Linked DNA regions of Homo sapiens: region 2 is linked to region 1. Evidence: fine-mapped expression QTL. Tissue or cell type: whole blood. Region 1 holds a variant in brackets; the other region holds the start of a gene. All regions are shown on one strand. Distances are from middle to middle.

Region 1 (8,171 bases):
GGCACCTGTGGTCAGGAGGACCCACCCACAGAGAGGTGGAGGGTGAACCACTCAGCCGCTGCGGGGCAGGGGCCCAAAGAAACGGGTGCTGTGTGTGGCCAGGCTCGGTGGCTCACACCTGTAATCCCAGCACTTTGGGAGGCTGAGGCGGGTGGATCACCTGAGGTCAAGAGTTCGAGACCAGCCTGGCCAACATGGTGAAACCCCGTCTCTACTAAAAATACAAAAATTAGGCCAGGCACAGTGGTTCACGCCTGTAATTTTAGCACTTTGGGAGGCCAAGGTGGGCGTATCACCTCAGGTCAGGAGCTCGAGACCAGCCTGGCCAACGTGGTGAAACCCCATCTCTACTAAAAATGCAAAAAATTAGCCAGGTATGGTGGCAGGCCCCTGTAATCTCGGCTACTGGGGAGGTTGGGGCAGGAGAATCACTTGAACCCAGGAGACAGAGGTTGCAGTGAGCCAAGATTGTGCCAAGGCACTCCAGCCTGGGCAACAGAGTGAGACTCCATCTCAAAAAAAAAAAAAAAAAAGAAAAAGAAATGAAACGGCTGCTGTGGCCACAGTGCTTGGTCCCCGCTGGCTCCGGGTCCATACTTGTCCCCTGGGGCAGGCCCCAGACCTGCCGTCACCCACGTCGCCTGCGCCCAGCCCCGTCCAGCAGACCTGACAGTCCCCACATCCCCGCTGGCCTCCAGGGGTCAAGGGTCAGGACGCCAAGGCCAACAGGAAAGCACTGGCAACAGGGCGGGGGCCTGGCCAGCCAGGCGGCCCAGAGGCGGTCCCCTCCATCCCAGGGTACTGTCCACACCTCCCAGTGTCCTGAGGGGAGTCCTCCTGCACTGCCTTTCTGAAGAGTTCTGACCCCAGGGTGTCCAGGGGCTGGGACTGGGGCCAGGTGGATACCAGGATGTGGTCAAGTAGGCCTGCCTGGAGGGTCCGGCCGCAGGGGCTGGGGAAGTAGGAGGGGAGGGCGGCCACCACTTCCCAACTCGGGAGCTGCTGACATCAGGGGACTGTTGGGCCTGGCCTGGCACCTGCCTCCCAGGAGACCTGAGTGCCCATCCTTGTCTTGGGCCAGCCTGTAGCCCTAGGCAAAGCAGGCACCTCCTTGTGCCAGTGTCCCCCTGGGCAAAGTGATCGTCCTGACCTGGCCTCACAGCCCCAGAGGTCCGTGTGTGACCCTCTCTGACAGGCCGGGTGGCGGGATGGAGCCCACGGCTGGCCATGGACCAGGTCTGGTGTCCCAGGCACATTGTGAGCACAGGGCAGGGCCTGCTGGCCTCCCCCAACCTCAGTGCTGTTTTCCCAAAAAGAGGTGGCATCCAAGTGCAGGGGCCATGCCCCGAGGGGCCTCGCGCTGACTTCGGGAAGTAGCAGGTGACGTCCCACCTCCCTGGGCAGCCTCAGGCCGCTTCCTGTCCTTGTTGGGGGGACTCCTGCCCCTGCCACACCGACCACAGTCCTTGTCCCTGCTGTTCCCTCACCTGAACGCCCTTCCCTGCCCTGACGGCCTCCATCCCACACGCCTCTCCGGGCGCTGCCGCCCCCCCGTTGGTGCTCATCTGTCCTTCTGCCCACTATCCCCAGCGGCCCCGATACCTGCACACCCCAGTGCCCAGCGGTTCCCCCTCGAGCTGGCAAGGGGACATTAAATGGGAGGTGAGGAAGTGCGGCCCCCAGCGGGCAGCTGCCTTTGCCCCGGCCCACCTGCGCCCCCGCCCACCTGTGCCCTCCGCCGCCTCCCTCTGCTTGGCTGTCCCAAGATGTCTCTCTCCACTGCCTAGGAACCCTGAGGCCGCGGCCAAGTTCTGAGCGTGTGACTGTGTGTGCTGGGCCCCAGGCCCCTTTGTCGCCGCGGCGTCTGTCGTGGCAAACAAAAGTGAACCGGATTAGCCACAGTGGATTAAAAGATTTACGTCTCAGAGTTTACCTAATAACCTAACAATCGTGTCAACGGGAGCTTTGAACCCCCAGGGCGCGCCTGCCAGGCCAACTGAGAGCTCAAGGCCTCTGTGGGCAGCAGGACGTGGTCGGGGGGAGGAGACGCAGCCACGGCTGTCCTCACACCCAGCTCGGCCCCTGCGGGCTCCTCTGGGCAGAACCTGGGGAAGGCACGGCCTCTAGCAGGAGGTGGAGGCCTTTGAAAGGGTGCAGGTGTTGGGACCAGGTACCCGGCCCAGGCCCCCAGCCGCGTCCACACACGTCGCACACGGCAGCAAGGACGCAAGCAGTGTGGAGGTGGCCGCGTCGGCGACGTATGGGCCCCGTGGTGCTGCGGTGCACGACCTCTGTGCTGTCACCCCACAGTGTCCGCTCCTGCACGTACACGCGTGCACGCGCACACACGTGCACACGCACACACACACAAGCACGCCCCGCTTTGATCTCTAAAGGAGAGTCCATTGACAAGCTCTTAATCGCAGCTGCCCTTGCAGGGCCTGTCCCTGAAGTCCCGAGTAATGGGATTTGGCGCTTCTGATCCATCGGGCTGGCCGCTTCCCGTGTCATAGGTGGACATTTTTTTTCTTTATATCGCTTCTGTTTCTTTTTTTTTTTTCTCCTCGAAAAAATGCTGCTTAAACGGCACCGACTTGACATGGCTTGTCTCCTAACCTTGGAGTGGCGGCCGGGACGCCGGCCTGGATCAGTCGGGGGTCTTTGATGCCGCCTCCATGTGAAACCTGACGTGGAAGACCCACCGGGGCGGTTTTGGGGTCCGAGGTCCGTCAGGATTCATCCTGCCTCACCCTGCTCCCTTTGTCTCTTCCCCTGACCCTTCCTCGGGACACCCGGAGAGGGTCTGAGGGTGAGGGTGCGGGCGCTGCGTGTGGGCTTGCACTCGAGGGTGGGGTGGGCCGAGGGCAGGGCCGCAGCCGCGAGAACAATGGGCAGAGGAGGCGCGTCCACCTGTCCGCCCGGCCGCCTGCCCGGCTTACCTCACCTGCCTGGCTCCGTGTGCCTGCTCACGCCCCACCGTCCCGCTGTCCGCCATGATGGGCTTGGCCGTCCGTCCGAGCACTTTCAGCCACTCTGGGAAGCAGGTCCCTGCTCTTGGCCACTGTGTGGCTGGGAGGCAGAAGCGTGACTCTGGGCTGCAGCTCGGGCTCCTGCCGCCGATTGGCTGAGGCAGGGACCAGATGACGGGCCTCAGAACCCTATGGTAGCCATGGCAACCAGCCCCTTTAGACACCGCCACCCCCGAGCCACTCCTGACTGCTGAGGGAGCAGGCGGCACTGCCCGTGGGCCCATGCCAGGGTCCCCTTGGAGGAACGAGGTGGGCATGGCTGCATGGTAGCTGTCCCCACAACAGCTGTTAAGCGTTTCCGTGTGTTTCATTCATGTCCAGTGTGTGGGGTCCTTGCCCCTCTCCTGGCCTGTCCGGGGCCACTCTGTGCCCTGCCTTACCCCCAGCAGAGGCAGAAGCACTGGCCTTGCAGCCCCTGCTGAGAGGAGGACTTCAGGTCAGGCTTGCCTCAGGGGCTGAAGGCCAGGCCCAGTCTGGTGGGAAAATAAAGGGTGGGAGCAGTGGAAGCGGGAGCAGGGAGAACTTCCCAGCCCCACTGGGCAGAGCCAAGCTCTCGCCCACCTCAGACGGCAAAGGCTGCCAGCTTTCTCTCCGCCCACAGTCCACTCCGCCACCCTCTCGTTAGCTGCGGCCTGTGGAATACGTGCACGTGCTCACACAGTCCCGTCTCACAAGCCCCCTGAGGCCCCTCCCGAGGCCTTGCTCCCTGGACCTTGGGTTCCCACTGGGCAGGACTCTGGGTCTTTGGCCACACTGAGGAGACCGTCTCGCCATCAGTCACACACCTGCGGCTGCACCCGCTCTCCCCTGGGCTGCAGTGCCCTCTTGC[G/A]TCCCAAGAACGCCTCTTCCCTCCAGGGCGCACCAGCATTGGCCCCTGGCAAAGCTTTCCCGTATGTCTGGAGACGAGGCTTCTCAACCGTCACCCGTGGACATCCTGGGCACTGCAGGGCACTGAGCATCCCCGGAACCACCCCCTGCCCCCAGCCCCGTGACAGCCAGAAACAGTGTTGGCTTGTCCACGCGCTCTGACAGCAGCACTGCCTGGCCAAGACCCCTTCGAAGGCTTCCCCTAAGCCCGGGAAGCTGAGTCCCACTTCCTGGCCCAGGCCCAGCACCCGATGAGCAGAATCTGGTGATGAACAGCTGCAGGACTGCAAGGAGCAAGCGAGAGCCTTGGGCTGCTGCAGCCCAGGGAGGCCACTACCAAGGCCATCAGAGGGACCCGGGATCCAGGGGAGCCTGGAGCATGGTCCATGGGGATCCACCTTCAAGAGAGCGACTTCGGGGCCAGTCCCAGGGAACCGGGCTTGGCATGGGCCTGGGCGCCGGGGGTCTCGGGCCGCGGCTGCTCCCCCAGGACTCTGGGCGCCGGGGGTCTCGGGCCGCGGCTGCTCCCCCAGGACTCTGGGCGCCGGGGGTCTCGGGCCGCGGCTGCTCCCCCAGGACTCTGGGCGCCGGGGGTCTCGGGCCGCGGCTGCTCCCCCAGGACTCTGGGTCCGGATCCAAGCTTCTTCGCACTGGCCTGGTTGTGAGCCGCCTGTCCCAGGATGGAACCCGGCCTTGAAGCCCTTCCCATGCCATGCTCAGAGCTACCAGCTTGTCTGGGGACAGGATGTGGGTAGGGACACCATCCCAGGACAGCAGGCAGTGGTTAGGGAGGATGGTCCAAGGCTGGAGCCCGCCTAGGGAGGGCTGCGGGGCGCTGCGGCAGAGGGAGCCAGGACCGCACGGGAGCCCAGGCTGCTGGGTGTGGCCATGTGGCCAGGGTTCCAGCTTGGGTGGCTGGTGGGTGTCAGAGGGACAGGGACTCAAGGGAGCCTGGGAGCCCCACACAATCCAGCCCGTGCCTGGGGCCAGCAGAGGGCTGGAGTTACAGACGGGCACTGGTGAGAGGGCGAGGGCGGCCAAGGACTGAAGGTGGAGGCGGAGCCCTAAGCAGGCCCGCGGGACACACAGTGGTCTCCCGGCAGCTCCCTTGGGCTCCCAGCACCCTGACGGGGGCACAGGACAGGAGCAGAGTTGCCAAGCGACCCAGAGGGCCCGCCCGCTCTCCATGCCCTTCCCTCCACTATCCTGCTGCTCTGTGCACCTGAGCAGGACTCAGGAAGCAGGCGAGACCCTTGGGGTCAGGGGTCAGACATGGACTTGTGACTGGGTGCCTCAGGCCAGCCTCACATCCACTCCACCCTACCCTTCCTGGCCTTGGCTTCCCCGTCTCTATGTGGAGTGATGGGGTCACTGACACCCCTTCCAGTCCTCCAGTTTTCTACCCCCAAGGGATCCCTGCCCATAGCCGTGAGGGTCCACCCCGGAGTCCACCCTCAGGTCCACAGCCCATTCTCTGCCCGACACCGCGGCTGACTGTTGTCATGGAAACACATGGCCTCTGCCAAGCCTGGGACACGCGTGGGGAACTCCTGGCCCCTGAGGGCTCCGAGAGGCTGGGGCTGGTGCAGGCCGGCCCAGGGCAGCTCTGCCTCCTGTGGGGTTGATCTTGCTCTGCACAGATCCCTCTCCCACTCCAGGTGCCTGAGGGTCTGCACGCCTCAGTGAGGGAGAACTGGCCGTTCTCAGAGACGGAGTCCAACACTTCAGGAAGGAGCCTGACAGGTGTGATTGGTGAGGATGGCAGAAGGAGGGTCTGGTGGCCCCAGCCCGGCCTGGCTCTGGAAGGGGTGGGGTGGGCATAGGGAGGGCAGGGAAGGGGTGGGGTGGGCGCGGGGAGGGCGGGGTGGGCGTGGGGAGGGCGGGGAGGGCGGGGAGGGGTGGCCAGCAGCCATTCCCAGGTTGGCTGCCCGGGCTCCCAGCTCAGTTCTCAGTTCCCCACACACATGTTGGAGCCGGTACAGTCCCTGGGACCCCTCCCCACAACCCAGAAGGCAGAATAGCATGCTGGATCCAGCTGCTGGGTCTGTCCCAGACCTGAGTCACGGTTTGGTCTTGAGGGATGGGTCCGGCATTTACGGAAGGCCTCTTACCTTTTTCTCAGTCAAGGACTTTTGTGGCCTCTGACCAGAAAGTTGTCAGGGCCCTGGCCACACCCAGACCCCACCTCAGTCTGGCCTGGCCTCCCCTGCGGGAGGACTAAACAGCCATGGGTTCCATCGAGGTGACTGGCAGAGGAGGTAACCTGCTGAGGCCAAATGCAGCTTCTCCCACTGGCCAGCTGGTAGCCTGGTCCCAAACCCACAACCCTGAGTCAACACAAGTCAGGACACACTGATAAGCACGTGCCACCATGGCCGACAGGGGGACCGAGGCCAGCGCCTACCAGCCCATTGCCAAGCCTGGCCCCTAACTTCTTGGGGCCCCCAGAGTCTGACCCAGGAAGCCCTACAGGCCTTGGCAGGAGCCCTGCTTACCGTGGGGCTTGGTTGGGGTGGGAAAGAGCAGGTGGTGAGTGAGGGGCAGCCACCGAGGCCTGAGTTGGGAGGTGCTGGACACACACACCATCAGGGAGTCAGGGGCAGGCCGAGGGGCTGGAGGGGGCTTGGCTTAAGTTCACAGCTGAACACGGGAACTGTGCAGGGCAGGGCGTGGCCACAACATCCCAACTCTGGCTAGAGCTGGGGCACGGAACAGCACTCATGCTGTGGGCAGCTGGGCTGAGCCTCATGGCCCCACAGAGCTGACTGAGCACTGTCTGTTTTTCATAAAGTGTTTTTTTTTTGAGACAGAGTTTTGCTCTTGTTGCCCAGGTGGAGTGCAATGGTGCAATCGTGGCTCACTGCAACCTCCACCTCCCGGGTTCAAGCAATTCGCCTGCTTCAGCCTCCCAAGTAGCTGGGATTACAGGTGTGCGCCACCACACCCGGCTAAATTTTTGTATTTAGTAGAGATGGGGGTTTCACTATGTTGTCCAGACTAGTCTTGAACTGCTAACCTCAGGTGATCTGCCTGCCTCAGCCTCCCAAAGTGCTGGGATTATAGGTGTAAGCCACAGTGCCCGGTATGATTTTTATTTATTTTTTTGAGACGGTGTCTCGCTCTGTCGCCCAGGCTAGAGTGCAGTGGTGCGATCTCCACTCACTGTAACCTCCACCTCCCGGGTTCATGCCATTCTCCTGCCTCAGCCTCCCGAGTAGCTGGGACTACAGGCACCTGCCACCATGCCCAGCTAACTTTTTTGTATTTTTAGTAGAGATGGGGTTTCACCGTGTTAGGTCTCGATTTCCTGACCTCGTGATCCGCCCGCCTCGGCCTCCCAAAATGCTGGGATTACAGGCGTGAGCCACTGCGCCCGGCCTTTTTTTTTTTCTTTTTGAGACAGAGTCTCGCTCTGTCACCCAAGCTGGAGTACAGTGGTGCAATCTCAGCTCACTGCAAGCTCTGCCTTCCAGGTTCAAGCGATTCTCCTCCCTCAGCCTCCCGTGTAGCTGAGATCACAGGCATGTGTCAACATGCCTAGCTAATTTTTTGTATTTTTAGTAGAGATGGGGTTTCACCGTGTTGGCCAGGATGGTCTCTATCTCCTGACCTCGTGATCCACCCGCCTCGGCCTCCCAAAGTGCTCGGATTACAGGTGTGAGCCACCGTGCCTGGCCTAAAATTTTTTTCAAGGTCGTTCACAGAGCAGGGGCATCACATGAAGGCACTGGTGTGGGGAGCAGCAGGACATGTCGGCAGAGGTGCCCGGTGTGGAAAGAGACCTCGGGGGCCCTCCCAGGGCTCTGAACCAGGCAGGTCCTGACCCCAGGGACCCCTTGCGGCCCCGGGAGCCACGTGCTCCCCTGCAGTCCAGCAGGGCCAACTGCAGACTCCCTCTGGACTCTGCCACAGCCCCCTTGGGAGCCAGGGGCCCCTCAATCAGCCAGCAGGCCCACGTCAGGCAGCTGCCTCCAGTTCACCCCATCCTGCCACCAGCTGGGGCTGGCTTAGGCTCAGGGGACATAAACCCCCCCTTGTCATTCTGCACATGCAGCTGGGGGAGCCCTCCCTCTGTGCTCCCTGGGAAAACCGAATGGGTCCGGAGGATCAGGATTTCCAGGTAAGGGTTGGGGGAGAGGGTCAGGTACCCCCAAAACCTCAGGGCGGGAAATGCCTTAGGGTGCACAGCCCGGCTTCCCGCTGGCCAAACCTCCACCCTGCAGGTCAGGTGGAGGTAGCAGGAGGGGACACCAAGGTCGCAGGTCCCCAAGTTCG
Region 2 (8,171 bases), 62 kb after region 1:
TGGCGGGCACCTGTAATCCCAGCTACTCGGGAGGCTGAGGCAGGAGAATCGCTTGAACCCAGGAGATGGAGGCTGCCGTGAGCTGAGACCGTGCCACTGCACTCCGGCCTGGGCAACAAGAACAGAATTCTGTCTAAAAAAATAAATGAAAAATGGTATTACATAGCATGTACTATCAATTGTGCAGATGTGGTGCACTCACTTAAACTGCTACACTTCACAACAGACAACAGGCTCCACTGAAGCCGTTCGGCTCTTCTTCCAGAGAAGTACAAATCCCCGAAGGAAACAAGGTCTTTCCATCTCCCTGCGGACATGTGCAGTTTCTCCGGCAGGTACTGGAAGGCGGATCCCACACTGGAGTATTCCGACCTTCAGCTGCACGACTGGTGCCAAATCCCCACTCCCTGGTGTCCCCAGACTTACTCTGATTGGTGTCAAGGGCTACACTCACACATTTTCCTGGTGACCAGTGAAGATGAGCATCTTTTTCATGTGTTTACCGGCCACCTGAATTTCCTCTTCTGGAGCTGCTTATTCATATTCTTTCCTCGTTTTTCTATCGGGTTGCTGTTCGTTTACTGTTTTTTGAGAAATTCTTTTGTGTATTCTAGAAATGAATATTTTGTCCATTAAATCCATTCTAACTCTCTCTTCCCAGTTGCTACCCCAAAATTTATATATTGGAGTCCTAACGCCAACGGGATGGTATTTGGAGATGAGGTCTTTGGGAGGTATAACTTAGGGTTAGGGCCGGGCGCGGTGGCTCACGCCTGTAATCCCAGCACTTTGGGATGCCGAGGCGGGTGGATCATGAGCTCAGGAGATCGAGACCATCCTGGTTAACACGGTGAAACCCCGGCTCTAGTAAAAATACAAAACAATTAGCCAGGCATGGTGGCGGGTGCCTGTGGTCCCAGCTACTGGGGAGGCTGAGGCAGGAGAATGGCATGAATCCGGGAGGCAGAGATTGCAGTGAGCTGAGATGGCGCCATTGCACTTCAGCCTGGACGACAGAGCAAGACTCCGTCTCAAAAAAAAATAATAATAATAATAATTAGGGTTAGATACGGTCAGCAAGGTGGGGCCCTCACGATGGGAACAGTGCCCTTATTAGAAGAGACAGTCTTTTTTTTTCTTTTTTCTTTTTTTGAGACGGAGTTTCACTCTTGCTGCCCAGGCTGGAGTGCCATGGCACAATCTCGATTCACTGCAACCTCCGCCTCCCAGGTTCTAGTGATTCTCCTGCCTCAGCCTCCCAAGTAGCTGGGATTACAGGCATGCACCACCATGCCTGGCTAATTTTTTGTATTTTTAGTAGAGATGGGGTTTCACCATGGCAAGCCTGGTCTTGAACTCCTGACCTCAGGTAATCCACCCGCATCGGTCTCCCAGAGTGCTGGGATTACAGGCGTGAGGCACCGTGCCCAGCCTTATTTTTATTTTATTGTTTTCCTTGAGATGGAGTTTCCCTCTTGTTGCCCAGGCTGGAGTGCAATGGTGGGATCTTGGCTCACTGCAACCTCCACCTCCCGGGTTCAAGTATTCTCCTGCCTCAGCCTCCCAGGTAGCTGGGATTACAGGACACGCCACCACGCTCAGCTAGTTTTTGTATTTTTAGTAGAGACAGGGTTTTACCATGTTGGCCAGGCTAGTCTCGAACTCCTGACCTCAGGTTATCCACCCGCCTTGGCCTCCTAAAGTGTTGGGATTACAGGCGTGAGCCATTACGCCCGCCTTTTTTTTTTTTTTGAGATAGTCTCGCTCTGTTGCCCAGGCTGGAGTGTAGTGGCTGGATCTCAGCTCATTGCAACCTCTGCCTCCCAGGCTCAAGTGATTACCCTGTTCAGCCTCCTGAGTAGCTGGGATTACACGCACCCGCCACCGCCCCCGGATAATTTTTTTTCTTTTTTTTTGAGACAGAGTCTCACTCCATCACCCAGGCTGCAGTACAGTGGTGTGATCTTGACTCACTGCAACCTCCACCTCCCGGGTTCAAGCAATTCTTTGCCTCAGCCTCCTGAGTAGCTGGGATTACAGGTGCCCGCCACCACGGCCGGCTAATATATACATATATTTTTTAGGTGGAGTCTCGCTCTGTCGCCAGGCTGGAGTGCAGTGGTGCGATCTTCGCTCACTGCAACCTCTGCCTCCCAGGTTCAAGCGATTCTCCTCCCTCAGGCTCCCGAGTAGCTGGGACTACAGGTGGGTGCCACCACACCCGGCTAATTTTTGTATTTTTAGTAGAGACAGGGTTTCACCATGTTTGCCAGGATGTTTTCGATCTCTTGACCTTGTGATCCGCCCACCTTGCCTCCCAAAGTGCTGGGATTATAGGCTGAGCAACCGCGCCCGGCCTAAATTTTCTATTTTTTAGTAGATACGGGGTTTCACCATCTTGGCCAGGCTGGTCTTGAACTCCTGACCTCGTGATCCACCCGCCTCGGCCTCCCAAAGTGCTGGAATTACAGGCATGAGCTCCCACGCCCAGCCCAAAAGAGACAATCTTTCTCCAACATGTGAGGACAGAGTGAGAAGATGGAGGCTATGCTTTGAATGTTTATACCCTCCAAAACGCATGTTGAGGCCAAGTGTGGTGACTCATGCCAATAATCCCAGCACTTTGGGAGGCCGAGGTGGGCGGATCACTTGAGGTCAGGAGTTTGAGACCAGCTTGACCAACATGGTGAAACCCCGGTCTCTACTAAAAATACAAAAAATTAGCCGGCCTTGGTGGCATACGCCTGTAATCCCAGCTACTCAGGAGGCTGAGGTAGGGGAATCACTTGAACCCGGGAGGCGGAGGTTGCAGTGACCAGAGATCGCGCCATTGCACTCCAGCCTGGGCGACAGAGTGAGACTCCATATCAAAAAAAAAAAAAAGATAATAAGGTGCTGCAGATCTGTGGTCTCAGCTACTGGAGAGGCTGAGGTGGGAGGATCTCTCTTCTATTTTTATTTTTTATTTTGGAGACGGAGTCTTGCTCTATCATCCAGGCTGGAGTGCAATGGTGCAATCTTGGCTCGCTGCAAGCTCTGCCTCCCGGGTTCACGCCTTTCTCCTGCCTCAGCCTCCCAAATAGCTGGGACTACAGGTGCCTGCCACCACACCTGGCTAATTTTTGTTTTTTTGTATTTTTAGTAGAGACGGGGTTTCACCGTGTTAGCCAGGATGGTCTCCATTTTCTGACCTCGTGATCCGCCCGCCTCAGCCTCCCACAGTCCTGGGATTACAGGCATGAGCTACCACACCTGGCCTAAGGTGGGAGGATCTCTTGAGCCTAGGAGGTTGAGGCTGCCGTGAGCTATGGTCGCACCACTGCACTGCAGCCTGGGCAACAGAGCAAAACCCTGTCTCGGGGAAAAAAAAGAAAAGAAAAGAAAAGAAGGAACTGCTACAGCCCACAGCCTACAAAGGGGACACAGATAGTAGCTCTGAACAGCAGACGGATAGACGGGAACTTGTCCCTTTAGTCTTTCATGAACAGCCTCTAACTGGTCCAGGCAGGGAGGTGCAGGCTTCCAGGCTGTGGTTCCATGGAGGACACCAGCCGGGCACGCAATGGACGTTTTCCAGCCCTAGCACAGACAGAGCGTGCGGGCCCCTGCTCTCAGAAAGCCAGCCTTCTGCCTCTGGCAGCGCCGGCACATAAAAGCAGAGGGAGCCTGCTGTCTCTGCCTCGCCCACACTAACACCCCTATTTAGAAAGGTTGACACATCACTATCACTGCTTCTGAAAATTTTATCCGGCCGAAGGCATCAGCCCAAATTTGAATTCTTGCCAAAGCTGCTGGTGATTTCGTTCTTTGAATGCAGTATCTTCCTCATGAACACGTACAGCTCTTACAAGAAAATGAGAATACGGTTTGGGGAGGAGGATCCCTCACATTCCTTTTCCTAATGCCAGCCTCGCGAAGTCTGGTCCCATGTACCCTGGGATTCTGCCACGGAAGATGACTCACTTAATTAACACGCTGCTCCTGACCGTACACTTGGAAGCAGAGGTTCCGTTCCTTTGGTTCTTGCCAAAGCTGCTTACGAAACCATATCTTGTGTTGGTGCCCATGGTGTGTAAAAATACAAGTTCATCATTTCCCTGATACAAATTATGACAGGCTAAATTTAGTGCCTCACCTGTCCTAACTAGCTTTCCCACCATCATGCCTGCCGCCGGGCTGTGGTCCTTTCTGAGGTCCCGTGTCCCTCTGAGGACAGGGACACCCAGACACAGAGGTCAGTTGTCAGACGCGGCCACGGTGCTCGGGAGGCTGGCTGCAGACGGGCGATTCACCCTGGGTGTCTTCTTGAGTCTTATTTTTTGTAGAGACGAGGTCTCGCTTTGGTGCTCAGGCTGGTCTCAATCTCCTGGGCGCAAGCGATCCTCCCGCTTGGGCGTGGGCCAGCGCGCCCGTCCCAACGCTGGGAGTCCCGGAGATCTTGGTCACAGGCTTAAGGGAAAGGCCTAGCGCGTGGCCGCGCGTGCCTCTGGTTTCAAGGGACATGGACTGCGTGTCTGGGGCCCCTCCGCACTCCGTGTCAGACCCTGCGTCCCCCGGGTCCGCGCGGGACCCGGGCAGGGCGTCGCCCTCTGCGGCGTCTGCGCCCCGCGAACCCTGGGGCACCTGCAACCCCTGGGCCGCGGAGCCAGGCGTGCGCCGCCTCCTGGTCTCATCAACGTGAGAACGCTTTACCCCCGAAGAGCTCAGCTCCTAGGGGGCTATGTCCCTTTGCGTCTCTCGCTCGCCAGGCGGTGCCGTTTACTCGACCGCACCATGCGTGGGTAGCGGTCGCGCCCGCTGGTAGCTGTGCGGCGGGAACACGTTCTAAGTAAGGCCTGACTCCGCGCGCCTCTTGCCAGGGACGTCACGTCACGCCTCCACTCGCAGCCTCGGAGCACCCCCGCGTCCCGCGCCCGAAGCTCGGGACCCCCGCTCTGGCGAAACGAGGAATATGACATACAGCAAAACACCCCTTCGCGGCCGCTGCACTGCCGCGACACACCCGGCGCCTGCCTCTACAGCAAGCCGGCGAGGGGCTGGGACCCCGCCGGGACGTGCTGACGTCAGGCCCGACGGGGGGCGGGGCCTGGGCGGCGGCGGCGTTAGTTCTCCGGGTACCTCAGGCGCCTCAGCCTCCTTAGTCTCCTCATCCTGCTTCACAGGCTCCGCGGCCTCCGGCCTCCTCGGCCCCCGTCCCCCGGCCTCCTCGGCCCCCGTCCCCCGCCATCCGCCGCCCGGATCCTCGCCGCCCTCCCTAGGCCGCCCCGCCGCCATGGGCCTGCGCCCGCCGCGCCGCCGGGCCGAGGGCAGCTGAGGCGCGGTGCGAAGATGGGCGAGGACAGAGCAGGGCCCGAGCGCCAGCCCCAGCAGCCCGGGCGCCCCGCGCGCGCCCGCCCGCGCCGCCGAGGGGATGCCCGCGCCCGCCGCCGCGCCCTGAGCGCCTTTGTCTGCCGCCCGCGCCCTTCCGCACCACTAGCCTCTCGGGAGCATGGCGTCGGCCCCGCCGGCCTCGCCCCCGGGCTCGGAGCCGCCGGGGCCCGACCCGGAGCCGGGCGGGCCGGACGGGCCGGGGGCGGCACAACTGGCTCCGGGCCCTGCGGAGCTACGCCTCGGAGCGCCCGTCGGCGGCCCCGACCCGCAGTCCCCGGGCCTGGATGAGCCTGCGCCCGGGGCCGCTGCAGATGGCGGGGCGCGTTGGAGCGCCGGGCCGGCCCCGGGGCTGGAGGGAGGCCCGCGAGACCCCGGGCCGTCCGCCCCGCCGCCGCGCTCCGGCCCGCGGGGGCAGCTTGCGAGCCCCGACGCCCCGGGCCCAGGGCCGCGCTCCGAAGCGCCGCTTCCAGAACTCGACCCGTTGTTCTCCTGGACTGAGGAGCCCGAGGAGTGTGGCCCCGCGAGCTGCCCGGAGAGCGCGCCTTTCCGCTTGCAGGGGTCCAGCAGCAGCCACCGAGCGCGGGGCGAGGTCGACGTCTTCTCTCCCTTCCCCGCGCCCACGGCGGGCGAGCTGGCGCTGGAGCAAGGTCCCGGGTCCCCGCCGCAGCCCTCGGACCTCAGCCAGACCCACCCCCTTCCGAGCGAGCCCGTGGGGAGTCAGGAGGACGGCCCCCGCCTCCGAGCCGTGTTCGATGCCCTGGACGGGGATGGGGACGGTTTCGTCCGCATCGAGGACTTCATCCAGTTTGCTACGGTCTACGGGGCAGAGCAGGTACGGAGCGGCCCGGGCCGGGGCGTGGGAACTGGGCAGGTGCGCGCTGGCCGGCGGGGTTGATGTGGGACCGGTCGACGCTGCCCCTGGAGTCGGGAAAGGCACTGTCAAGACCTGACGGTCCTGCTTTTTCTGCTTATTCACCACTTCGGCCCTGGATTTCTGGTTGAATTGCGCTGGAGTCCCTCTTCCCTTCTTAAAAGGAGGTTCTATTCTGGGGAGTCAGTTTCTTCCCCTCCCCCCAGCGCCTCGTCAGCTGGATCTTACCGAGGTCAGCTCCTCGCCTGGGGACACCCCCCCAGGGGGCCTGATCGCCACCCCCCCAGGGTGCCTGATCGACGTGCCCCTGAATGAAGAAGTTCCCCGCGATTCCCCCACCCGAGGGCCCAGATACTGCTCGGCTGAATTCACCCAAGTTCTAGCCGCAGAGGCCAGGCTGCCCAGACGCCTTGAGATCCTACTGATAGACACCTATTTTGAGTACAATTACTTTACTGTGTGTGGTTGACATCTTTTCTACTTAGATTTCATCTTTTATTTGGGAGACAGTCAATGCTTGTAGAGAGTCCTGGAATTAAGAATTTTTACTTTGGTGCCTTTGGGGAGGAAGGCAATGAGCCTCGGAGCTTGTTGGCAAATGCAGAAGTCTAGCAGAACTCCGTTAGGGCCACGTCCACTCTCGTAGGAGAGGTGAAATGCGTGGACAGGCACTACGCACAGTACAGTGTGGAAGGGGTCCACGCGGTCCTCAGGGCACCTGCTCCTGGGGGAAAGGTGGGCCCCAAGATGCAGTTGTTCCTGTCTACCTCAGCACTTAATAAAGTTTAAGTGGAGATAACAGCAGGGCCGTGTGTGTTCTGCCAATAACCCGGTGGACATCAAATAATACCAGTGCTCACTTTTAAATATTTTACTTAGCAGGAAATCCCTAAGGTGCATCTGTCAATTTTTTGTATTTTGACTTCTCACACATGCAGACATCTGGTAAGTGGGTGTTCAAGTACATATGCATGTTTAAGCCAAGAGGTCTGTAAGAAAAGAGGTAAAATTGGCACACTGCTATTTAGGGTGTCAGTCATAACATTAAGAACCTTGATGGTCGGGCGCGGTGGCTCATGCCTGTAATCCCAGCACTTTAGGAGGCCGAGGCGGGCGGATCACGAGGTCAGGAGATTGAGACCATCCTGGCTAATATGGTGAAACCCCGTCTCCACTAAAAAATACAAAAAAATTAGTCGGGCGTGGTGGCGGGCACCTGTACTCCTAGCTACTCGGGAGGCTGAGGCAGGAGAATGGCGTGAACCCGGGAGGCGGAGCTTGCAGTGAGCGGAGATCGCGCCACTGCACTCCAGCCTGGGCGACAGAGCGAGACTTCGTCTCAAAAAAAAAAAACAGCAACAAAACAAAAAACACAGGGTCCTGATAAATCAGGGTTCCTTGCTGAGTTCACATTAAGAAGATGTGCAGACAGGTGCGTGCGGGGCAGCCTGCAATGCTCGCAAGCTTAGCTCCGGTTGGGATATTGTCAGGGTAGTTTTCCACCTACACTAATGGGCAGTGAAATATGTGACTGATACTTTCCTGTATGGTCAGCGTGGATGGTGGTTGCTGGTCCAGGTGTTTTGCTGCGTTTCCTTCTTGCCCCTGGGCTGGAGAGCACCTTGAGCTCCCTTGGTTGCTGTTGGCTACTGCGCTGTCTCTTCTCCCAAACATACTCTTGCTTCAGTACAGCAAAGAAGTTAGGAGAGTACCACATTTGCTCCTTGTTACCATAACCCAACTCTTGATAGAGAACTTCTGTGAGGCTCAGGATGTTTCCACTGGATCATACCACAGTTCTCTGAGATAGTAGGTAAGCAGGATTCATCCCCACTTTACAGGTAAGAAACTGGAAACCCAGAAAGGTCAGATAGCTCTCCCAAGGTCTCACAGGAGTAGAACTAGGTCTTTTGGCCCTTAGACCTTAGAT

Evidence for each region. PIP is the estimated chance that this variant, and not a neighbour inherited with it, causes the effect.
Region 2: RAB11FIP3 starts here. The variant in region 1 is fine-mapped to the expression of RAB11FIP3 in whole blood (TOPMed, PIP 0.99).

What each region holds. Positions count from the first base shown.
Region 1 is chr16:358,475-366,645 of GRCh38, forward strand. No RefSeq gene overlaps it. Among named protein-coding and RNA genes, the nearest start is that of MRPL28, 8.0 kb to the right of the region's middle. RefSeq lists enhancers at 2,400-3,248, 3,249-4,096, 4,725-5,232, 5,233-5,739, 5,740-6,246. The variant G/A (reference allele first, on the strand shown) is at 3,859.
Region 2 is chr16:420,519-428,689 of GRCh38, forward strand. RAB11FIP3 (RAB11 family interacting protein 3) reads left to right here and starts at 5,131. Exons shown (of 14, transcript NM_014700.4): 1 at 5,131-6,202. The coding sequence starts at 5,489.